Linked DNA regions of Homo sapiens. The protein of the gene in region 5 purifies or fractionates together with the protein of the main gene of each other region. This does not show direct contact. Each region holds a gene or a part of one and is shown on either strand. Other genes may lie near its edges.

Evidence for each region.
Region 1: the proteins of INSIG1 (region 5) and TPM3 purify together in Homo sapiens (affinity purification with mass spectrometry, with the first as the bait; one large-scale study listed by BioGRID). This does not show direct contact.
Region 2: the proteins of INSIG1 (region 5) and CKAP2 purify together in Homo sapiens (affinity purification with mass spectrometry, with the first as the bait; one large-scale study listed by BioGRID). This does not show direct contact.
Region 3: the proteins of INSIG1 (region 5) and CLSTN1 purify together in Homo sapiens (affinity purification with mass spectrometry, with the first as the bait; one large-scale study listed by BioGRID). This does not show direct contact.
Region 4: the proteins of INSIG1 (region 5) and HSPG2 purify together in Homo sapiens (affinity purification with mass spectrometry, with the first as the bait; one large-scale study listed by BioGRID). This does not show direct contact.
Region 6: the proteins of INSIG1 (region 5) and COPG1 purify together in Homo sapiens (affinity purification with mass spectrometry, with the first as the bait; one large-scale study listed by BioGRID). This does not show direct contact.
Region 7: the proteins of INSIG1 (region 5) and NSF purify together in Homo sapiens (affinity purification with mass spectrometry, with the first as the bait; one large-scale study listed by BioGRID). This does not show direct contact.

What each region holds. Positions count from the first base shown.
Region 1 is NC_000001.11:154,175,101-154,178,600, reverse strand, and holds part of TPM3 (tropomyosin alpha-3 chain), read left to right. Parts: intron 1-396; exon of another isoform or gene 397-487; intron 488-2,352; coding exon 2,353-2,486; intron 2,487-3,500. UniProt on the Homo sapiens protein: Binds to actin filaments in muscle and non-muscle cells. Plays a central role, in association with the troponin complex, in the calcium dependent regulation of vertebrate striated muscle contraction.
Region 2 is NC_000013.11:52,472,478-52,474,802, reverse strand, and holds part of CKAP2 (cytoskeleton-associated protein 2), read right to left. Parts: intron 975-2,325; coding exon 719-974; intron 1-718. UniProt on the Homo sapiens protein: Possesses microtubule stabilizing properties. Involved in regulating aneuploidy, cell cycling, and cell death in a p53/TP53-dependent manner.
Region 3 is NC_000001.11:9,754,466-9,757,965, forward strand, and holds part of CLSTN1 (calsyntenin-1 isoform 1 precursor), read right to left. Parts: intron 2,046-3,500; coding exon 2,016-2,045; intron 845-2,015; coding exon 649-844; intron 1-648. UniProt on the Homo sapiens protein: Postsynaptic adhesion molecule that binds to presynaptic neurexins to mediate both excitatory and inhibitory synapse formation.
Region 4 is NC_000001.11:21,829,311-21,832,810, reverse strand, and holds part of HSPG2 (basement membrane-specific heparan sulfate proteoglycan core protein isoform b precursor), read left to right. Parts: intron 1-204; coding exon 205-316; intron 317-1,014; coding exon 1,015-1,159; intron 1,160-1,248; coding exon 1,249-1,348; intron 1,349-1,486; coding exon 1,487-1,596; intron 1,597-1,720; coding exon 1,721-1,829; intron 1,830-2,719; coding exon 2,720-2,818; intron 2,819-3,206; coding exon 3,207-3,428; intron 3,429-3,500. UniProt on the Homo sapiens protein: Integral component of basement membranes. Component of the glomerular basement membrane (GBM), responsible for the fixed negative electrostatic membrane charge, and which provides a barrier which is both size- and charge-selective.
Region 5 is NC_000007.14:155,304,378-155,307,877, forward strand, and holds part of INSIG1 (insulin-induced gene 1 protein), read left to right. Parts: intron 1-3,500. UniProt on the Homo sapiens protein: Oxysterol-binding protein that mediates feedback control of cholesterol synthesis by controlling both endoplasmic reticulum to Golgi transport of SCAP and degradation of HMGCR.
Region 6 is NC_000003.12:129,252,606-129,256,105, forward strand, and holds part of COPG1 (coatomer subunit gamma-1), read left to right. Parts: intron 1-17; coding exon 18-89; intron 90-270; coding exon 271-350; intron 351-2,062; coding exon 2,063-2,138; intron 2,139-2,379; coding exon 2,380-2,472; intron 2,473-3,462; coding exon 3,463-3,500. UniProt on the Homo sapiens protein: The coatomer is a cytosolic protein complex that binds to dilysine motifs and reversibly associates with Golgi non-clathrin-coated vesicles, which further mediate biosynthetic protein transport from the ER, via the Golgi up to the trans Golgi network.
Region 7 is NC_000017.11:46,691,669-46,695,168, reverse strand, and holds part of NSF (vesicle-fusing ATPase), read right to left. Parts: intron 2,267-3,500; coding exon 2,101-2,266; intron 1,323-2,100; coding exon 1,248-1,322; intron 695-1,247; coding exon 507-694; intron 1-506.

The DNA.
Region 1 (3,500 bases), on a different chromosome or scaffold from region 5:
CACTGTGCATAGACTCATGAGGGAAAAGTCAGCTTGTCTTCCTTGTTCCTTTAAACAAAGTATCAGATCTTGATTCTGCAGGCTTTTGTTTCATTGTAAAGAGAACTGATCCTCTGTGCTAGGAGAAAAGAGAAAGGCAAGGTCCCATTCCCTACCACTCCACCCTGGAGGGGGTCTCTGAAGCTTTTTCTAGGACTCCCATCTCAGGTTCTGCTTTTGATACAGGCTTGTTCATGTGTGCATGCTCTTAGGAGGGCACCAAGATGTGTTTTCCCCCTCTCCCTTTTCAGCCTTGCTAAGAATTCTATTGTAAATGCTGATTTGTGGGAGAAACTGCCTGAGCCAGCTTGCTGTCATGGCAACTGTACACCCCCGCCCCATAGCCTGTTATCTTCTACTCCAGTTTGGGTAACTACTGGTGAGCTGCATGATGTCTTACATTTCATGAGCTTCCTCTAAATCTAGTTGTATTTTTCGTCTGAGGGGGGTAAGTCATTTTACTAGCAGTGTCTCCTAGGTCTTGCCTGATAGCCTGACTTGCTCTTGATCCATGGCCTTGTTGGGTTTGTGAGGAGAAATGTGTGTTGTTACAGAGAACATCTATTTTTCTGGAAGAGGCAGAAGCAGAGAATACTTGTCTTTGTGGTGTTTTGAGTAGTGTAGTTAGAGGCACAAATGGTTTCTTAATGATTTCAGCTTATGTTGACTTCTCGATTTTCTTTGCCTGGTGGCTAGATTGTAGCCCCAGCCCTCTGCTTCCCTTCCTAGTCTCTTCAGCTTCTCATGTTTGTATGTGGAAGTTTTTGTGCCAGTCCTGATGGTTAAAAAGGAGTCTTTTGGTCTATATTCTTCCTCATCGGAGCTAGTGGCCCAGGCTGTTTCTATAGCTGCACCAACTCCTGCCTGCCAGGAAGAAATCAGGGTAATAGAATTCAGGCACAATCTGGGCTATAGAAGAGAGATCGTGTTTACCAGGCACTTGGATAAGCATCTGAACTGGGTGGTGTGCGGGGCATATTAAATTCTTGTATACTGTTGCAGTCAGGGTACCTCCCACCAGTAAAGGTAGCGGGGAGGCAGTCATGGAAAGAGGTTTTCCTACCATTAGAATTTATCCATCCACCTGCAGGCTGCCTCCTTCTTTCCTTGTTTCTTAGAGAAAACCCATCCAGGATGGGTTTACTTGGACTCTAACCTATATACTTCATTGTGAGATGGAGGCCAGGGGGAAGATTGTCGCTGTATTAGAGGGTGAAGCTAAGGGGATGGCTGGAGGAATAGAAAGGAGAAAATTCAGAAATTTGGAGGAATGGTAGTGGGTGTGGTGGAAATGTTCTTTCTTTTTTGTAAAGCTATCAAAGCAGATAATTTTAGCCAGAAGCAGCTCCTTGTAGCCAACTTAAAAAAGGAGTACGGGGGCACAAGTTGAAGGGCTGGTGAGTAGGCATCCCAACAATATTCCATTCTTTTGCTTTCCAGTCTGGAAGGCTATTCTGGAAGACATTCCCTTGGCTAGTTATTCTTCTGATGTGTTAGGGTAAAGTGATCATAGGAATAACGGTTTGAGTTAAGCAGCAATTAATAGGTAATCCAGGATTCCCTCTTTTTTTTTTTTTTTTTTTGAAATGGAGTTTCACCGTGTTGCCCAGGCTGGAGTGTAGTGGCGCAATCTCAGCTCAGTACAACCTCTGCCTCCCGGGTTCAAGGGATTCTTCTGCCTCAGCCTCCCGAGTAGCTGGGACTAGAGGTACGCGCCACCACACCTGGCTAATTTTTGTATTTTTTATTAGAGTCAGGGTTTCACCATATTGGCCAGGCTGGTCTCAAATTCCTGACCTCATGATCCACCCGCCCCAGCCTCCCAGAATACTGGGATTACAGGCATGAGCCACCACACCCAGTCAGGATACCCTCTTTAAGAAACCTTGCTTTTTTTTTTTTTTTTTTCCTGCTTTATGAGACACTTGAAAGGTTACTGAGGATGAGACATGCCTCCAAGCCAGAGCTCAGGCAGAAGGAACCCTTCATTGACTTTCTTTTCTGACTCCAGTGTGTTGAGGAATTTGAACTGAGTCCAGGAAGTGGGTGGTACTAACTCACTGGGCTGGGCAAGGAACTGAGTTTTAAAACACTCTTCCTGTGGAACATATGGGAGTTCGTTGATGGGAAAGGGAGGAAATATATATATATAAAGTTATGTCTGCTAGATCTTTTAACAGCTGAGCTAAGACAAGTTCTACCCTGCGAGACTCTGGCTTTTTCATGGTAGTCAACCCTGATCTTAATGTCATAGTTATTTCTTCTTTTCTCCATGCCTCTGCTTCCCTTGTCCATTCTTTCCTTCAAATGCAGGCTGAGGCTGAGGTGGCCTCCTTGAACCGTAGGATCCAGCTGGTTGAAGAAGAGCTGGACCGTGCTCAGGAGCGCCTGGCCACTGCCCTGCAAAAGCTGGAAGAAGCTGAAAAAGCTGCTGATGAGAGTGAGAGGTGTGTAGGGAAGCCTGATGGAGTGTGGATTTTAAAAGTTCATAATAGTTCTGATCAAGATTTCCTTATAGACCTGTTTTCTAAATAGCAATTCTGGCTGCGTGTGATGGCTCACGCCTGTAATCCCAGCACTTTGGGACGCTGAGGCAGGAGGGTGGCTCAAGCCCAGGAAGTTGGGGCTACAGTGAGCTCTGATTGCGCCACTGCACTCCTGGGTGACAGAGAAAGACCCTGTGTCAATCAGTCAATAAAAATAAAATACTAACTCCATCACACAGGATCTCCTTTCTATTCTGCATATTCTGTCCCCTTGAAGACAGTAAGGGTAACTTAGATGTTGTGACCCTTTTGTAATTGGTATTTCCTTACAAATTGGCCTAATGATCCTTAAAATGGGATCACCAGTATGACTTCTACTTTCTGGATCATAAGCTTCTATTTGTGAGATTAATTTCTCTAAAACAGAGGTTCTCTAAGTAAGGTCTCAGACCAGCAGCATCAGCAATACTTGGGAACTTGGTAAAAATTCACATTCTCAGCTCCTATGCTGATCTGCTGAATCAGAAACTTTGGATGTGGGGCCTGGCAATCTGTTTTTAGTAAGCCTTCTCAACGCTGGTTGCATTATTAGAATCATAGGTAGGGGTGAGGGGGGAAATCACTGGGGAATTTAAAACTGGATGCTTAGATCTCATCCCAGTTCCATTAGAATCAGTTGCAAGAGGGGTCTGGGCATTGATGTTTTTAAAGTTCTCCAGCTAATTTTTTTTTTTTTTTTTTTTTTGAGACAGAGTCTCGCTCTATAGCCCAGGCTGGAGTGCAGTGGCGCAATCTGGGCTCACTGCAAGCTCCGCCTCCCGGGTTCACGCCATTCTCCTGCCTCAGCCTCCCAAGTAGCTGGGACTACAGGTGTCCGCCACCACGCCCGGCTAATTTTTTGTATTTTTAGTAGAGACAGGGTTTCACCGTATTAGCCAGGATGGTCTTGATCTCCTGCCTTTGTGATCCTCCCGC
Region 2 (2,325 bases), on a different chromosome or scaffold from region 5:
GTTATAAGCAGGTAAAAGCATTTAATTGTCTTTTAGAGAGGTACTATAAGCTCACCGAAGTGAGAAACTTATCCTTTTCTCAATTTGTCATTACAACTTGTATACAGTAGATACCTGAGTATCTGTAGAACTGGCTAATTCCTGAAAGCCAAAACCTACTGTTATTAATAACACACAGATTAAAGTAAATTCAAATAAAAGTTTTCTTTTTCAAAATGGCAATAGTTAGGGAAAGTAAATACAGTATTTAAGAGGTGAAATGTTCTAATGACATTCTATTTGTTTAAAAACTTTTCTGTTTTCTTTTTTGTTTTGAGACAGGGTCTCGCTCTGTCATCCAGGCTGGAGGACAGTGGCATGATCTTGGCTCACTGCAACCTCTGCCTCCTGGGCTCAAGTGATCCTCTCACCTCAGCCTCCCAGGTAGCTGGGACTACAGGCACACAGCACCTTGCCCAGCCAAAATTTTTTTTATTTTTTGTAGAGATGGGGTTTTGCCATGTTGCCCAGGATAGTCTTGAACTCCTGGGCTCAAGTGATCTGTCTGCTTCGGCCTCCCAAAGTGCTGAAATTACAGGCGTGAGCCACCATGCCCGTACTGAAATTTCTATATTAATAAATGGTAGCTGTAATCTGAAGCTATCTCAAAGATTTTTAAATGCCGTTATTTATTATCTCCAAGCATGAAAACAAATCATGGTACATTTTAAAAGTTTACCTTTGCAAGTATGGCGTAGTAGACACATTATATTTAATTAAGCAACTTGTCCTCGTTTCTGTATTGGGGGTTTTAACATCATGGGTTGGATCTTTTGTTTTGTTGTCTTGCTCTTTTTCACAATCTTGAAATAGCAAATTTCTATGAAGTTTACTCTCCATTTCCAGTTTTTCTGGATCTACATCAACACCTGTATCTTCAATACTGACTTCTTTGACTTCTTCCTTGCTTGCACAAGACTTCTCCATATTTTCTCCTATAGAAAATACATTTATAGATTAAGCTTTTGGCTGAATTTTAAGAACAAAATCAGAAGACATTAAAGTTGTTCCTAGTTGGCCACATTTTCAAAATAAAAGAACACGATTGCCATCTCTGAACCATTCCTTTTCCTCAGCAAATACTGCTGCCAACTATATAACAAATACTATTATAAAATGAAATAAATGCTATATATGAAATAAGAACAAAGGATTATTAAAACCCACAAAAAGAAACAACTAACTTTGCCTGTGGTATAGGGAGATGGTTAGGGAATGCTTCACAAGCGAGATTTAGGCTGGGTCTTAAAAATGAGTACTTGATCAAGACCAAGGAAGACAACCTTCATATGGCACATAAAAGAAAATGATCTATTAAATTAACATAACATTAAAGAGCCAGTGTGTTTAGAATATAGGGTAAGGAACAAGGTTAGGAGTGGGAGCAGGAGGTATTGAGCTTAGATAGGTAAACAAGAGCTAGATTGTAATGAGCTTTATATGAAAGAAGTTTGGTAAAAAAAATTCACCAGAGAGCTAGATTGTAATGAGCTTTATATGAAAGAAGTTTGGTAAAAAAAATTCACCAGAGACAGACATAATTAAATTTGGTCAATGTAAAGGACTGTCTAGAATGGCAGAGAATGAAAAGTAACAATCTGTGATGGCAAGAAGACAAGGTTGTTGTAATAGCCTAAGTAAGTTAGGAAGAGATCAGATAGGAAAGGAAGGGTCCAATCTGAGAAATATTTCTGAGAACATTTTTTTTTTTTTTTTAGAGACAGGGTGTCTGCCGTTCTGTCACCTAGGATGGAGTGCAGTGGCATAATCTTAGCTCACTGCAGCCTCAACTTCCCAGGTTCAAGTGATCCTCCTGCCAAAGCCTCCCAAGTAGCTGGGCCTAAAGGTGTGTACCACCATACCCAGCTAATTTTTACTTTTTGTAGAGATGGGGTCTCACTATGTTGCCAAGGATGGTCTCGAATTCTAGACCTCAAGCGATTCTTCCACCTTGGACTTCTGGTGTTGGGATTATAGGCGTGAGCCACCACACCCACCCAAGTCAGAACTTATTAACAAATGAATACATGACTGTGTAGGAATGAGTGTGCAAATGTATTAGGAGCGTCTTATCCAACATTTCTTAAGAGTCATAAATGCCAGAGAAGAGTTTTTTCTTTTCTTTTTTGGGAGAAAGGGATGTTGGGTATGGGAAAGGGATACTGGGCATGGGAAAGCAGTGAGGGCAGACAAAGAGTTCAAAATAAAACATGTTAGGCTGGAAATACTTGTGAGACATCCTGGTGAATCCATTGAGCTGGAAAAAAAAACCTCTGAATTTAATTA
Region 3 (3,500 bases), on a different chromosome or scaffold from region 5:
GAAAAATCACTTGAAACCGGAAGGCGGAGGTTCCAATGAGCCAAGATCGTGCCACTACACTCCAGCTTGGGTGAAACAGCGAAACTCCATCTCAAAAACAAAACACAAAAAGGCCAGGTACGGCTCACGCCTATAATCCCAGCACTTTAGGAGGCCCAGGCAGGCGGATCACCTGAGGTCGGGAGTTTGAGACCAGCCTGACCAACATGGAGAATCCCCATCTCTACTAAAAATACAAAATTAGCTGAGCGTGGTGGCGCATGCCTGTAATCCCAGCTATGTGGGAGGTTGAGGCAGGAGAATCGCTTGAACCCAGGAGGCGGAGGTTGCGGCGAGCCAAGATCATGCCATTGCACTCCAGCCTGGGCAACAAGAGCAAAACTCCATCTCAAAAAACAAACAAAAACAACCCCAAAAAACCTAATATGCCTAATGTGAGCAAGGCTCTTGCTAGAAACTGTATACAAGGGTAGAGAGACATGATTCCTGCCCTCCAAGTGTTTACAATCTAATTGTAGACACTTGAGAACTATCTTCTGCCTATTTCAAAAACAGTCTTGGGGAGCAGGCAATAGTCACTACTATTTTCGTTCTGCGCACACACGTTTACTCGGTGGGTTATGTTCACTCTTTGTCCAGCTTACTTACTTATGAGACTTTTTCACGTTGGTGCCATCAGGTCCCTTCCCACAATCATAGGCCTGGATGGTGAATGAATAGTCTTTCTGCAGCTCACAGTCCAGTTTCTCTTTGGAGCGAATGACTCCCTCACCAGTGGATTTATCCACTACCACTGCATCAAAGGGGACATTCTGCCCGTGAATTTTAAATCCACAAATCTCACCTAGGGAGTCAAAGCAGAACAGGTAAGAATTCCTACCACATAGATCTTCTGCACCTTGCCCTCCTCCCCCCATCTCCACCCCCAAAGAAAATAAATGACAACAATTTGGCAGCCAGGGGTTTGGAGGGTCCGTGGACAAAGCAGGGGCACTGTGTTTTAAACATGGGGAAGTTCTCGGGCTTTAGTAAGATGAAGCAGATTCTGGCTTTCCAAGCAACTTGTTTACTTTGCATCCATTCATGCAGGAATACAAAAGAGAGAGAGAAGAAAATATAGACAGGCATTCCACAGGAGCACTTAGATAGCTCGAGGGTAAAAGGAGTCTCATTAGCACACAGCCAGGCCTGAGAACACCAGCGCTGCCCCAGCTCCTGGGAGGGCTGGCAGCCAGTTTGATTTGGACCAGAGAGAAGCTAAAACGCAGTTATGTGTTGAGAGAGGAGGAAGCGTGAGATATAGGATCAGCACCGTAATTACAGAAATTCTGTCAAAAAAAAAAATCAAAGGAAACAAGTCTTCCTGTGCAATGAGCCTGGCTAAAATTAGGGAATCAAAACAAACTACTCAATGAGAAAGGTAGAAATACCGACTCGTCAGGCATCCATTTCAACAGCTATTTTATCATCTACGATTCAGACACAGTTTCTATTATGGGAGGGACTGGCTAGACTTGCCTTTGTTTCGGACTTTATCCTATCAAACCTGAAAAAGACACCAGCCTGGGAACTTCTCTACATCTAAATTGGCTCACAACTTAATTAGGAGTTAAAAATCTATGTTTCCATTCTTGTCCATGGGAGAACAGTATAAATGTTTTGATGTCGATGTGAAACTCCACAAAATGTATTTCACATGAAAATAAGACTGCACTCCTTCCACAATTCCAACTAATAGAAAATTGTTATAAAGCAAATCTCTGAAGTTCTATTAAACAAAAATGTACAGTGTTATCCATACAGTTCAAATGGATGTCTGATTTCCAGATATTTCTAACCAAGGGTCTGGTTACATACAATTTCCATCAATATACTTTAAAATAGAAACAAAGTAGGAGAATAAATAAGGATAAAAGAGCATGACAGTTTCTCCTGTTTAAGGGCTGATTCCCAATTTTATAAACAAAGTTAGTGGGTTAATATTCATAAGAGGGGAAGAAAGAACCCTTTATCACCTTCTTTGGTGACTGTCACCTCAAAACTCTCTAAAGGGAGAAAAGATAAGCCCATGTCAGTAATACAGGAAAGAATGAAGATGGAATACACTAAGGAAAAAAGTCAAAGGTGCACATATTACACATTTCCACACCAAGCTCAGCGACCGGCTTCTACGATTGCTACAGCAAAACCTAATCTTCAGGAACAAAATGTCACTTTGAATCCAACTTACCATGAACTACTGCATAATTCTGAAGTTATTAATTTAGGGATGAAATACTCCTACATGAAGTGTCCTAACACCCTCAGGGGTCATTAGGATTTTTCTTTTTTTTGAGACAGAGTCTCGCTCTGTCACCCAGGCTGGAATGCAGTGGTGCTATCTCGGCTCACTGCAAGCTCCGCCTCCTGGGTTCACCATTCTCCTGCCTCAGCCTCCCGAGTAGCTGGGACTACAGGCGCCCGCCACCACGCCCGGATAATTTTTTGTATTTTTAGTAGAGACAGGGTATCACCATGTTAGCCAGGATGGTCTCGATCTCCTGACCTCGTGATCCGCCCACCTCGGCCTCCCAAAGTGCTGGGATTACAGGAGTGAGCCCCCGTGCCCGGCAGGATTTTTCTTTTAATGAACACTCTAGTGACAAACCATGAATAAGTACATCTATTTGTTATTTTGCAGTTTTCAGATGTTCATTTCCAACCTAAATTCTCTCAGCTAGATTCTGGTAACATTCAACTCATCAGTAGATTTAATGAAACAAAAATTTGGAGCAAAAGGTTTTTTTTTTTTTTTGAGATGGAGTCTTGCTCAGTCGCCCAGACTGGAGTGCAGTGGCGTGATCTCGGCTCACTGCAAGCTCCGCCTCCCTGGTTCACGCCATTCTCCTACCTCAGCCTCCCGAGTAGCTGGGACTACAGGCGCCCGCCACCACGCCCAGTTAATTTTTTGTATTTTTAGTAGAGACAGGGTTTCACCATGTTAGCCAGGATGGTCTCGATCTCCTGACCTCATGATCCACCCGCCTCGGCCTCCCAAAGTGCTGGGATTACAGGCGTGAGCCACCGCACCCAGCCGAACAAAAGGTTTTAACCCTTTGTTCTTGAACTGAAAAAAATGACAATATTTTTCTAATCCAAAGTACCCAACCAAGGCAACAAATATAAACCCCTCTGCTAATGGAACATCTGCTTAAATGTGAATAGAAACCAGATTCAAAACTAACTGTAGGGATGCTACAACAGTCACTGTTCTCATTACATGAAAGCTCTGTTCTACCAAGTCAATATATATCCTGCTTATAAACCCTTTACTATGGAGGAGTGGAAATGTGAAGAGATCAGGAATTTCGCTGCCCCTCAACACACTGGGCCCTCACTGGTGGCACCTTCTCTCCCCCAAAGGTAACACGACCTGAATTCCCTTGCTTTGCTAATAGTGCTACCATTTATTCTCCCTGAACAGTGTTGTTTCATTTTGCTTGGTTTTAAGGTTTTAAAAA
Region 4 (3,500 bases), on a different chromosome or scaffold from region 5:
CTTTCTAGGGGCGCTCAGTAAGGCCCTTGCGTTTGGGGCACCAGCCCTGAGATAGTGAGAAGGCCCTGGCTGTGTGAGGAGTGCCAGAGGGAGGGACAGGTTCCGAGAGTGGACAGGCTCAAGAGCTTGGGTGGTTTCTAGGGTGGGGGAGGACAGGGAGCCTGTGGCTGGAAGGGGGCCCCTTACACAGTGGTGCCCACCCAGGGATGCTGCTGTACAATGGGCAGAAGCGAGTCCCAGGGAGCCCCACCAACCTGGCCAACCGGCAGCCCGACTTCATCTCCTTCGGCCTCGTGGGGGGAAGGCCCGAGTTCCGGTGAGACCCCCAGCCTCCCCACCTACAGGGGGACTGGACACAGGGCTTTGGTCTGGCAAGTGCTACCCTGGGCTCCATTATACAAAGGAGATCTGGAGGAAGGAGAAAATGTGGCCGTTACCCTTGGTGACCACCCAATCTGCTAGAGTAGGAATAGTATGCCAGTCAGGTGGAGGAGGGTGCAACCTCAGACTTGGGACTGCTGCAGGCCAGGATTCATTCATTCATTCATTCATTCATGCATGCATGCATCAGTTATTTGCTGACCACCCCATGTGTGCCAGGCACTGATACAGGTAAAACAAAACAGACCAAATTCTGGCTCTTGTGGGAAGAGGTGTATTCTCACTGGGGAAGAATAAACAAGCCATAAACAGAGAAACAAGGTGATCACAGGGAGAGAGGAGTCCTCAGAGGAACAAGGAGGCCAGGTGCTAGGCTGCAGGGCGCTGAGCCTGGGGTCCCTGTGGGCTGCTCTGGGAAAGCTCCCAGCAAAAGGATGTGGGGAGAGAAGATCCAGGGGATGGGTCACGGGGAGGGACGACAAGACAGGGACAGGAACGGGAACAGCCCCAGGGCTGGGACTGCAGGAAGTGGTGACATCCCTCCTCTGGGACCCCTCTACCCAACTGGGCCCCTAGCCCTTCTTACAAACCCCCTATCCACTCTCTCCTGCCCCGGCCTGCCCCACGGAGCAGGTTCGATGCAGGCTCAGGCATGGCCACCATCCGCCATCCCACACCACTGGCCCTGGGCCATTTCCACACCGTGACCCTGCTGCGCAGCCTCACCCAGGGCTCCCTGATTGTGGGTGACCTGGCCCCGGTCAATGGGACCTCCCAGGTGAGACCCAACCCCATACTGCTACTTCCAGCCCTCATCCCGCCCTTGCCCAGCCTCTGTTGCCATTCCTGACTTCCCCACCTCCCCAGGGCAAGTTCCAGGGCCTGGATCTGAACGAGGAACTCTACCTGGGTGGCTATCCTGACTATGGTGCCATCCCCAAGGCGGGGCTGAGCAGCGGCTTCATAGGTGAGCCCCCTCCCCACCTCCAGCTGAGGCTGGGCCTTACCTGGCTGGCTGGAAGAGCCCTGGAGAGCCTGGGAGGGCACCTCAGGGTATGGGCTGGGACACCCTGCCCTGTGCTCATCCTGCCCACTCACCTCCCAGGCTGTGTCCGGGAGCTGCGCATCCAGGGCGAGGAGATCGTCTTCCATGACCTCAACCTCACGGCGCACGGCATCTCCCACTGCCCCACCTGTCGGGACCGGCCCTGCCAGGTGACCCCACACCCCACACACCACCTGGCTGCCGTGGCCTCCACCCCTAGCCATGGCTGGCCCCTGTGGGGATTATGGGGGGTACTGAATGTTCTCGGCCTTACTTCTGGGGGCTGCTTTGCAGAATGGCGGTCAGTGCCATGACTCTGAGAGCAGCAGCTACGTGTGCGTCTGCCCAGCTGGCTTCACCGGGAGCCGCTGTGAGCACTCGCAGGCCCTGCACTGCCATCCAGGTACGCACCCCGACCGCCAGTCGCTGTCGCCCCAGGGCCTGCCTCTTCCCTTTGCTGCCTCCCCATATCCACCACCATCTCAACCACTGGGGCACTTCCACACCCCCCACTCTCACCTGAGCACTCTCCACTCCTCCCATGTACCCATCCCCCATCTCTGCTACCCGAAGGCCCTCACCCCATCACTGCTGCTTCCCCTCCTCCAGCCCTGCTGACCAAATTCTTACCACTACCCCGCCACCCAGGCACTCCCCCACCCCCAGCCCATCTTTTTTTTTTTTTTTTTTTTTTGAGACGAAGTTTCGCTCTTGTTGCCCAGGCTGGAGTGCAGTGGCACGATCTCAGCTCACTGCAACTTCCACCTCCCGGGTTCAAGCGATTCTCCTGCCTCAGCCTCCTGAGTAGCTGGGAATACAAGTGTCTGCCACCACCCCTGGCTAAATTTTTTGCATTTTTAGTAGAGGCGGGGTTTCACTACGTTGGCCATGGCTGGTCTTGAACTCCTGACCTCAGGTGATCCACCCACCTCGGCCTCCCAAAGTGCTGGGATTACAGGCATGAGCCCCCACGCCCGGCCCCCAGTCCCATCTTATTACCCAGGTGCCCACCCCATTACCCGCCACCAGGTGCTCCCCCTCCAACACTGTCCAGTCTCTGAAGAACCTGCAGACACACAGAGTCCCTCGACTGCTTCCCCTGCAGTCCTCCCTGTGGCCTCTTCTGGCTCCCGCCTTGCTCTGCTCAGTTCCCTCCTCCAAGGCCTCCCAGGAGGCTGGCCTGGCCCTCACTAGCCCAGCCCCCCGGGGTGTGATGGGCAGACCTCTGGCATCAGGACCCCCCTCCCTCCAGAGTCACCTCCGTGTCTTTTCACTGGCCTATGTGCCCCCCAGAGGCCTGTGGGCCCGACGCCACCTGTGTGAACCGGCCTGACGGTCGAGGCTACACCTGCCGCTGCCACCTGGGCCGCTCGGGGTTGCGGTGTGAGGAAGGTGAGGGGAGCCAGGCCTGAGACCCCCAGGGTCCTAGTGTCAGCTGGGGAGGCTGGGTGGGGCACTCTGAGGCCATGATGGGCCCTACGGATGATAAAACGATTCCCAAGCCAGAGGATCTCGAAGTCACCTGGCCACATGTCTGCCCAGCCTGAGCCCCTTATTGAGTGAGGGCCCCCAAAGAGGACCCCTGTCATATTGGAGCTCCTCCCAGCCCCGTGTGCAAGGGCAGGGGGGCTCCTGTGCCACTGCAGCTGGTGCCAACTGGTCCTGAGCCTCTGGGCCTGGAGAGTGAGGCAGGCAAGGGTCCCAGAGGAAGGCAGAGTAGCTGGACCCCACCCGAGGGTCCAGGATCCCCACTGCCTCAGCTGAGCTGTGGCTGCTGCAGGTGTGACAGTGACCACCCCCTCGCTGTCGGGTGCTGGCTCCTACCTGGCACTGCCCGCCCTCACCAACACACACCACGAGCTACGCCTGGACGTGGAGTTCAAGCCACTCGCCCCTGACGGGGTCCTGCTGTTCAGCGGGGGGAAGAGCGGGCCTGTGGAGGACTTCGTGTCCCTGGCGATGGTGGGCGGCCACCTGGAGTTCCGCTATGAGTTGGGGTCAGGTAAGCACCCAGCACCAAATGCGGGGCTCTGCACACCAAGCCTTGTGCCCCCCTCGGCTCTTCAAGCCCCAG
Region 5 (3,500 bases):
GCTTTCTTGCTTTGAGATTTTTGTTTCGGTACTCTTTGGGAGAGAATTCCTAAGAAGGTTTTTAGAATAAAATTGTCCTCAACCAGATTGACTAATTACACATTATAACTACAACTTGAATAACATTTAAAGAGTTGGTTATTTCTGTTTGATAGGTTGGTGCTGTTATATGTCAAGGCTTTTTAAATCGGTTTTAAGAAATAAGCATTATTTTGGTGGAGGTAGAAATTTCACAACATTCATAAGTTCTAAACATCTAGAAATGGTTGGAGGAAACATTTTCGTTTTGAAGATAGTTTCATTAAGTAATCCCTGCTGTGCTCCTTTGCTTACAGAAAAAAATGTTAAAGATAACTCAAAATAGGATAGTTGGTGTAATTATAATTCTCCTTACTTCAGCTTTCTCTTCATCCTTTTTATTCTTTAAGCTTGGGGGAAAATGTTTGGATGTTCTCGTATCTTAAAACTGGAGGAGAGAGGCTGGGCGCGGTGGCTCACGCCTTTAATCCCAGCACTTTGGGAGGCTGAGGCGGGCGGATCACGAGGTCAGGAGATCGAGACCATCCTGGCTAACACAGTGAAACCCCGTCTGTACTAAAAATACAAAAAAAAAAAAAAAATAGCCAGGCGTGGTGGTGGGCACCTGTAGTCCCAGCTGCTTGGGATGCTGAGGCAGGAGAATGGCGTGAACCCGGGAGGCAGAGCTTGCAATGAGCCGAGATTGTGCCACTGCATTCCAGCCTGGGTGACAGAGCAAGACTCTGTCTCAAAAAAAAAAAAAAAAACTGGAGAAGAGAGATCACCACCTTAATCCCCTTCCCTGCTGGGCTATCACATGAAACTGACCTCTGAGGTTCTAAGCCTAACCCGCCTACCACTGTTTTTATTCATAAATACTTAAATCCTTACCTCTGGATCCCAACTGTTACTCTTTTTTTCACTTCAAAATTTGCAAACTCATTTCTATCCATCAAACCCCGGAAATGGCCCAGGGGCTTCACAGTGCAGTCCCCTCCCTCCTGCTGCATCCGTTCCTCAGGCTGTGCCCCAGGTTGCATTCGTGGTGCGTGTTTTCTCCCAGGGCAGCCTTCCCCACATTCCACTCTTGTCATACTGTTGACTCACAAAATGGAAGTGGCTGAATGTTCCAGGGATAGTGTCTAAGAGCTATTGGTTTAAGGTTGAAACCTACACCAAGTAAGGCTTTGTGAAGGGAGATGACGAGAGTGAAGTTGTTGACAGTCTGAAGGTGAAGAGATTCCGAGGCTCAGTTCAGCACCGGGACCAGACCCGCCCAGATCCAGGGTAATTTGAGGTCTGTGTTTGGTGCTGATGGTTTTGCCCAGTGCACTCCACACCCTCTCCTTCTTAGCTGTCTCAGTTCTCTTCAGATGCCTTTGTTCTAACTTATGCTTCCCTCCCTTAAGAAGAAACATAGTTACTTGCAAGAATAACCATGCTCAAAAGTTACAAGTTGGCTTTGCTTCAAGTTATATGGTCTCCTAGCTTTTTCTATGTGGTATTTCCCCCCACACATGCCGTTGTCCTTTGTGTCCGAAAATACAGCAGAAACATTTGTTATCAGCCTGTTACGGTTTTTTTGTTTGCTTTTTGTTTGTTTTTATTTTTACTTTTTTTGAGACGGAGTCTTGCTTTGTCACCCAGACTAAAGTGCAGTGGCACAATCTTGGCTCACTGCATTTGAACCGTCTCCCAGGTTCAAATGATTATCCTGCCTCAGCCTCCCAAGTAGCTGGGATCACAGGCGCCCACCACCGCACCTGGCTAATTTTTCTGTTTTTAGTAGAGACGGGGTTTCGCCACGTTGGCCAGGCTGGTCTCGAACTCCTGACCTCAGGTGATCCACCTGCCTCTGCCTCCCAAAGTGCTGGGATTACAGGCATGAGCCACCGCGCCCGGCCCAGCCTGTATGTTTAAAAGAAAATGAGTCTGTAACCATCATTTATAGAACTTGTAGTTGTTGCTGTTTGTAGCTTCAAGTCCTTTCTCAAGAGTAAGCTGCAAACTGCCAACAGCAATCAAGCCTGTCCTGCTGCCACTGCCCGGCCCCACTGGGCCACCTGGAGGCAGAGTCCCGCCCACCTCAGTGTCAGCTTGGGATTTGATTTGCCGTTCCTGTTTTTGATTGACCCAATTCAGCTGCTAATGATAATAATACTATTATTGTTATTGAGGGTTTACATTTGTTGGGCTCTTACTGCTGCACAGGAGGCATTGTGCTGAGCGTTTCCATTGTTAGCCAGTTTAGTCCTCATAACACAAGTCTTTGAAGTAGAAACTATTATTAGCCCATTTTTAAAAGGGGAAATTGCAGCTTAGGAAGATTAAACAACTTGGCCAAGTGGGTGGCAGAGGTCGACGTGGCACCGTGCTTCTCATTAGCATACCACACTGCCCTTTCAACACATAGCTCGCACCTGCCTTCACCCTGGAAGCAGGTTTACAGCAGCCTGTGTTGGTGTCTGGGTTGCCATTTACAATGTGCCACCATTAGGCAACACTGCTGGAAGTCCCTGTGCCACGTGTCAGGTCCGCCCGGGCTGGCTGTCGTTCGTCTCTGGCGTCTTTGCCAGGCCTCACTGTGGCCTCTGTCGACCAGGGATTCTAAAAGTCCACTTCCCATTTATTTATCAGCACATTAGTGAACAGGGAGTCAAATGTGATGACCAGTTTTCTTTCCAGGTTGCTGCCAAGAGTTTGCTCTTTTGTTTTCTCACCGCAGTTTGTATAGAACCCTCCCAGTGTTCATATCTAAAAATTGGCAGTGCTTTCACATGATCAATTCCTAAAAGCATGTATGTTTCCTAGAAGGTCTTATTGTGTGTGTCCCCAGGGTAGTAACTGGCATACCTGGGTGACTCAACCCAGACTCATGACTTTCTTACCTGTCTGTTCAGATGAGAGGCTCTTGCTGTTTTCTGGATGAGTAATCTCCGTCATTGCTGAAGGTGAGGAGCTCAGCTCCTTCCTCTTAAAGTGAGTGGAGGGCAATTAAGTAACGTGGGAAGTCACGATTCTGAGGGAAAAAAATTCTGTATGGAGGTTTCTCTTTTGCCCTTTAGCAGAAGCTCCGTGGCCTCAGGAAGGTCATTTAATCTCTCTGGCTTTGCTTCTTCATCAGTGAAATACTGTTCTCCATTAAGAATTTACCCTGAGGTGCCTGGTCATAGTAGTAACTGTAGTGTCTACCTCTCAGAAGCTCTGTGAGGGTCAGATGAGGAAGAACATGTAGAAAGGATTTCCCAACTGTGAAGCTCTGTGTGAATTGAGGGCACACAGAGCTTCAGTATTACAAAGCATGACCTATTTCCAATGTCTGTTTCAACAAACTGCTGGTAAGGTGGGTTATAACACAGGCATCAGATACTAATAAAGGTTTGTGGCAGAAACCTCCCTTCAGATAAAGGTTCAATCCCTTAAATTGCAGTTAGAACTTTCAGGAACCTATCATACCCTAAGCATCACCATGCTTTGATAAA
Region 6 (3,500 bases), on a different chromosome or scaffold from region 5:
TTTCTTGATTAACACAGGGGGAGCACCTGGGGACCACGGAAGCGACCGAGGCCTTCTTTGCCATGACCAAGCTCTTTCAGTCCAATGATGTAAGTGCCTCAACCCAGCTTTCCTTGAGAGGTGGCAGCTGTAACAAGGTGGTGGGAGGGCCAAAGAGAGCTGGCCCCACCAGTCAGTGTGGGCTGCCTTTGTGGAGACAGGAGGTATCTTCTCCCAACTCTGGCCCTTGGTGAGCCCGGGCTGATAGGGCTTTTCCCACCTATCTCCCAGCCCACACTCCGTCGGATGTGCTACTTGACCATCAAGGAGATGTCTTGCATTGCAGAGGATGTCATCATTGTCACCAGCAGGCAAGTCATGGGGTTGTGGGTGGCTCTTCTGATGGGTTCCATTGACAGACCATTTTTTTCTTGTGTGTACCAGACAGTGAGACTTGGTTGCATATTGCCAGCTGCCCACCCCGTGGCAGCTTCCCTGTTACCACTGCCCACCCCATGGCAGCCTCCAGGTGTGCTGTTTCTATTTTAATTCTCTGACCTTGACTTGGACACAAATGCTTCCTTTTCTTGATTTCTCTTAGTCAACCAAACCAGCTTAGAACTTTCCCAAAGACTTTCTTGAGTATAAAGAGAGAACACAAGAAAAATAAACAAGAGAGTACAAGCGGTATACTGCTTACTAAGTGACTGGTGTCTGCTTTAAGCTAAGCAATTCAGGGACAGATGTGACTAAAGTGTAATCACTGCCCTTAAGAACTGGGGCTCAGTTCTCTTATTTCTTCCTGCCACAGTTTAAGGTTGTGGGGGTCATACATTGATTTGTAGGTTCAGTTAGAAAATATTGTCTGTCAGTCCCTGTGTGTAGCTCTGGGGATATAGCAACAAAAAAGATAGACATGGCCTCTGTAGCCCCAGAATTTACAGAGAAATAACCAGGCATCAGGCCATTAAGGTAGGGTGTAATATAGTTTATCACGGAAGTATTATGGGCTATGAGAGCAGACCAGAAGAGCATCCAGCTTGATTAGAATTACGAAAGTCCTCCCAGAGGAATGATCTAAGTGGAGTCCTGAAGGATGAGTAAGAAATAGTAGGACAGGACAGGCGCAGTGGCTCATGCCTGTAATCCCAGCACTGTATCCACAATGTAATCCACAGACTGCGATGGGTGGATCACTTGAGGTCAGGAGTTTGAGACCATCCTGGCCAACATGGTGAAACCCCGTTTCTACTAAAAATACAAAAATTAGCCAGGTGTGGTGGCGCACACCTATAATCCCAGCTACTGGGGAGGCTGAGGCAGGAGAATTGCTTGAACTGGGGAGGTGGAGGTTGCAGTGAGCTGAGATCATGCCACTTACACTCCAGCCTGGGTGACAGAACGAGACTGCGTCTCAAAAAAAAAAAAAAAAAGCCAGGAGTGATGGCTCATGCCTGTAATCCCAGCAGTTTGGGAGGCCGAGGCGGGTGGATCACAAGGTCGGGAGTTCAAGACCAGCCTGGCCAACATAGTGAAACCCCCTCTCTACTAAAAATACAAAAATTAGCCGGGTATGGTGGCATGTGCCTGTAGTCCCAGCTGCTGGGGAGGCTGAGGCAGTAGAGCTTGAGCTCGGGATGTAGAGGTTGCAATGAGCCAAGATCGCACCCCATTGCGCTCCAGCCTGGGCGACAAAGCGAGACTCTGTCTCAAAAAAAAAAAGAGTAGGACAGAGTGGAGGTGAGGGGTGAGGAATGCTACAGGCTGAGGAAACAGCACATGCAAAGGCTGGAGAGGAGTGAGCATAGCCAGTTAGGGAAGTTCAAGGAGTTACATTCAGGTCACTGGCAGTAGGAAGCTATGGAAACTTTTTAGCAAAAGCAGGGGGATGACCTGTTTGGTTTTGAGTCTTATGAAACTCCCTCCAGCAGCTGTGTGGAGTTAGGCTTGGAGGGGCAGGAATAGAGGGAGAGCACTGGTTAGGAGGCTCGTGTAGTAATCTGGGCAAGGGTGGTGTTGGGAGCTGGAGAGGAGTAAACAGGCCCAGGCTCTCTGCATGCTGACAATGCCTTCTTCCCTGCAGCCTAACAAAAGACATGACTGGGAAAGAAGACAACTACCGGGGCCCGGCCGTGCGAGCCCTCTGCCAGATCACTGATGTGAGTCGTGCCGGTTCCTCCCTGCTTCCTGGCCTCTTGATTGAGGCCTCGGCATCATCTTTTGCATTCTTTGGGGTGTCCCCTATCACTGAGCCAGGTGATGTGGGGTGGAGGCAGTGTGCAGGAGCACATGAGAAACGCTTACTTCCTCCTCATACTCATCTCTGCCCCCATTCCTGCACTCCTGAGAGCTGCCAAGGACTGACTGGATCTCCTTCCACCCTGCTCCTTTTGCCCACAGAGCACCATGCTGCAGGCTATTGAGCGCTACATGAAACAAGCCATTGTGGACAAGGTGCCCAGTGTCTCCAGCTCTGCCCTCGTGTCTTCCTTGGTGTGTAGTTGCTGCTGGAGCCCTGCTGGGGGTGGGGTAGAAAATTGAAGAAAATTTAAGAGTCACATTCCAGTAGGAAAAAAGAAAGTGTTTCTTTCTTTCTTTTTTTTTTTTTGATTGAGACGGAGTCTCACTCTGTCACCCAGGCTAGAGTGCAGCGCCACGATCTCGGCTCACTGCAACCTCTGCCGCCGGGGTTCAAGTGATTTTCTTGCCTCAGCCTCTTGAGTAGCTGGGATTACAGGCGTCTGCCACTGTGCCCAGCTAATTTTTGTGTTTTTAGTAGAGACAGGGTTTCATCATCTTGGCCAGGCTGGTCTTGAACTACAGACCTCATGATCTACCCGCCTCGGCCTCCCAAAGTGCTGGGATTGCAGGCGTGAGCCACTGTGCCTGGCCTCTCTTTCTTCTTTTTTTTTTTTTGAGACAGAGTCTCACTCTGTTGCCCAGGCTGGAGTGCAATGGCTCGATTTCAGCTCACTGCAACCTCTGCCTCCCTGGCTCAAGCGATTCACATGCCTCAGCCACCTGAGTAGCTGAGATTGCAGGTGTGCACCACCACGCCCAACTGATTTTTGTATTTTTGGTAGAGACGTAGTTTCACCATGTTGGTCAGGCTGGTCTTGAGCTCCTGACTTCAAGTGATCCACCCGCCTCGGCCTCCCAAAGTGCTGGGATTACAAAGCGTGAGCCACCGCACCTGGCCAAAATAAAGTATTTCTGTATCTGTAAGCCTGAGAGTCCCACCCTTCTCAGTGAAGACAGCCAAGAAACTCTGGGGTGATTGAAGAGAGTCGTGGGTGGATGGTGTTGACCCATGCCTTGGGGAGGGACATTGAGGGTGGGAGCATCCTGAGTTTGTCCATGGTCTCTGAGGACCAGGACAGTGGCGAGCCCCTGAGCTGTGTCTGAGGGAAGACCAGAACTGGGCCCAGAATGTGTGATGGGGACACTTCCTACCTGCCCCTTAATGTGTCCTGTTGCCCACAGCACCTGCTGAAGTGCAGCTTTGACGTGGTCAAGCGCTG
Region 7 (3,500 bases), on a different chromosome or scaffold from region 5:
GTTCACACCATTCTCTTGCCTCAGCCTCCCGAGTAGCCGGGACTACAGGTGCCCGCCACCATGCCCGGCTAATTTTTTGTATTTTTAGTGGAGACGGGGTTTCACCGTGTTAGCCAGGATGGTCTCGATCTCCTGACCTTGTGATCCGCCCGCCTCAGCCTCCCAAAGTGCTGGGATTACAGGCATGAGCCACCATGCCTGGCCATATTACAACTTTTAATACAATACAAAGATTTAAAAACACTTCTTCAAAATTTTCACTTTACGTGTCTGTGTCAGATGGTGATGACCTAAGGTAGATGAGTCAGTGGTTACTACAGGGCAGATGCAAACATTATCTTCCTTCCTGCTACTCTGAAGATTTAGCAGTTGACAATTAATTCTTATTCCTTTTACCATCTCTTCTCCACCAAAAGTCAGCATTTCCCTACCCCTTGATATGCTTGAAAGGAAAGAGAAAGAATACTGGCATAATGTTTATAATCTGTTTAGCTGATTTTCCTGACCTTTATGTGTCTATTCATAGCAGTGGACTGGGCTGCTCGCACCAGACCCTCCAATTCAGCACCACTGAAATTCTTGGTCTCCACGGCCAGTTCTTTAATGTCTACATCAGCAGAGAGTAACTGATGCCCTCTCATTCTTGCTGTGTGGATGTGAAGAATCTGTAGTCGGCCTTTCTCATCTGGCAAGCCTGATGAAATTAAAAATAAAATAGGCATTTTCCTAGTCTCGAAAGCACCATCAGAGGAGATTATCATTATTATTATTACTATTATTTTGAGACAGAGTCTCGCTCTGTTTCCCAGGCTGGAGTGCAGTGGTACGATCTCAGCTCACTGCAACCTCTGCCTCCTGGATTCAGGCGATTCTCCTATCTCAGCCTTCCGAGTAGCTGGAATTACAGGTGCACACCACCACACTCGGCTAAGTTTTTTGTATTTTTAGTAGAGAAGGGGTTTCACCATCTTGGCCAGGCTGGTCTCGAACAACTGGCCTCAAGTGATCCACCTGCCTCAGCCTCCCAAAGTGCTGGGATTACAGGTGTGAGCCACTGCGCCCAGCCTAGAGGAGATTATTATGATCCTAATGTTTTCCTTATAGGTACTCAAGCATGTAAACATCTACTTCTCATGATATAAACCTTTTCTAAAAAATACTACACCATATGACATTGTTCCTGTTAATGAACTCTAAATGCCTCCACTCCCCCCACCACACACCCAATCAGTGACAGATCTCCTTACCTATCTCCATTTTAACTTCCAGTCTTCCAGGTCTAAGAAGAGCCTCATCTATCAGATCTGGTCTATTGGTCATTCCTGAACACAGATGTTAAAACAAAACAACAAATGATCAGAGTTCAAAAATAAAATCAAATGTCCTTTTAGTATATGTAAGAATAGTAATTTCCCTAACAAGCTAAGGAGACTTTGCTTTACTATTTCACTACTGTATAAGCCAATGGAATATAAATGTTATGAAAACTTCCAGTATTTAAAAAGAAAATTTAAGATTCAAAGGGTAAATAATCTGTCAAAGTGACAGAGGGGCAATGTGACACGATCTCTCTGACTCCAAAGTTCCTTCTCTTTTTTACAGGCCAGTGGTTTTCAGACTTCATAAAACAGCAGGGTGTTTTTTTTTTTTTTCCCCCAGAAGTCATCTTCAGAAGCACCTCAGTACATAAAACAGCTAAAAGAGGAAGTTATAATAGTGATGTAGGATCTGAAACGCACTCCCTGGCCCTCACTGACCCTGAAAGCACCTCTGAGGACCCCCGAAGGCCTGCAAGACCCAGTTTGAAAACCACTGCATTCCATTGTTTCATGTGTATTTTTCATTTTTGGGTGAGCTATAAGCTTCAACCTACATCTTTTTCACCTGTGGGTGAGCTATAAGCTTAAACCTACAAGTGACTGAAATCCATCTTTTATTTTTCCTATTAAGCCTAGGCATTACAATAGATTCTTCAATATCACTGGATTCTAATTTGGAAACACTGGCAAAACAGTTTAATCACAACCTACACACATCTTAATTCAGAACTTATGGCTAACGTTTTTGAATGAATAGTACTTTTTTAAAAAGTAAACATACCAATGACTAGGATGTTGTTTAGCTGCTCCACGCCATCAATTTTGGACAGCAACTGGTTGACAACAGTGTCATGAACTCCCGTGCTACCAGCCATGCTCCCTCTCTGCTTGCAGATGGCATCAATTTCATCAAAGATGATGATGTGCAAACCACTGTTAGCACCAAGCTATTAGGGGAAGAAATTATATTAAAGATCATAATTTGAATGTCTTATTAAACAAACTAATCAGAAAAACAAAACAAAGCTTTCAACAGATTGACTTCACTTCATTTTGACTAATAAATATGGCAAGTGCAATTGTGGTTGTTGTCCTCTCAAAGGTGTTGGAACTAGATTCTCAGAATTCTGCAAACTGAAAACTCATTCTAGAACCTCATATTTAATAGCTATAAAATGAAAATACACATTATATACTGATAGTGTGTGTGTATAGATAGAAAGTAAGTAGTCGATCAAATAATTTATATACATTTCTTATCTCACTATTTGAAAGACCTTACATTTGTCAGATACTTTCATTAAGTCAGTCAGTGGCAACACCCTCCCATTTTCCCTGAGTTTTGGTGAGAAGACTGTCCCAGAAGCAGTAGGTTTAATGTTTGTTTCGTTATATTATGTAACTAAAGGTTAACTCCACCTACAGGTTGACTGGGAATTGGACAAATGAGTGAAGAAACTCAACATGACTCACATGTACTTATATTACATGAAAACAGATTACGCCTTCCTAACAATAAAGTGAGAACAGAGACGGTTTATAAAAAGAACATGGTTAACAGGGTGCTGTTTCTTCTGCATAATGATTTCTGCCTTAGTTTACTAGAAATAGAATCACCATTAAAAGAAATTAGTTTGTATATTTTGAATCTTTAACAGATACAAACACTTCTGAATGCTACTAATTCATTAGGTTAATTTAACACGTACCTTCTAAAATTTATATTTAAGTAATTTAGTCTCCTATCAGGGAGTAAAGTGCACTCTGGAAATTTTTTCTTTTATAAACAAAAAACACGGCCGGGTGCGGTGGCTCCTGCCTGTAATCCCAGCACTTTGGGAGGCAGAGGAGGATGGATCAACTTAGGTCAGGAGTTCGAGACCAGCCTGGCCAACATGGTGAAACCCTATCTCTACTAAAAATACAAAAATTAGCTGGGTGTGGTGGCAGGTGCCTGTAATCCCAGCTACTCTGGAGGCTGAGGCAGGAAAATCACCTGAACCCAGGAGGCAGAGGTTGCAGTGAGCCGAGACTGCACCACTGCACTCCAGCCTGGGCGACAGAGTGAGACTCCGTCTCAAAAACAAAAAATACTAGGGATTAACAAAACTGGTAAAAAATGAACATAACCTAAATATGACAACATACGGATAATAAAAATTAAATGAGCATAATGAGACT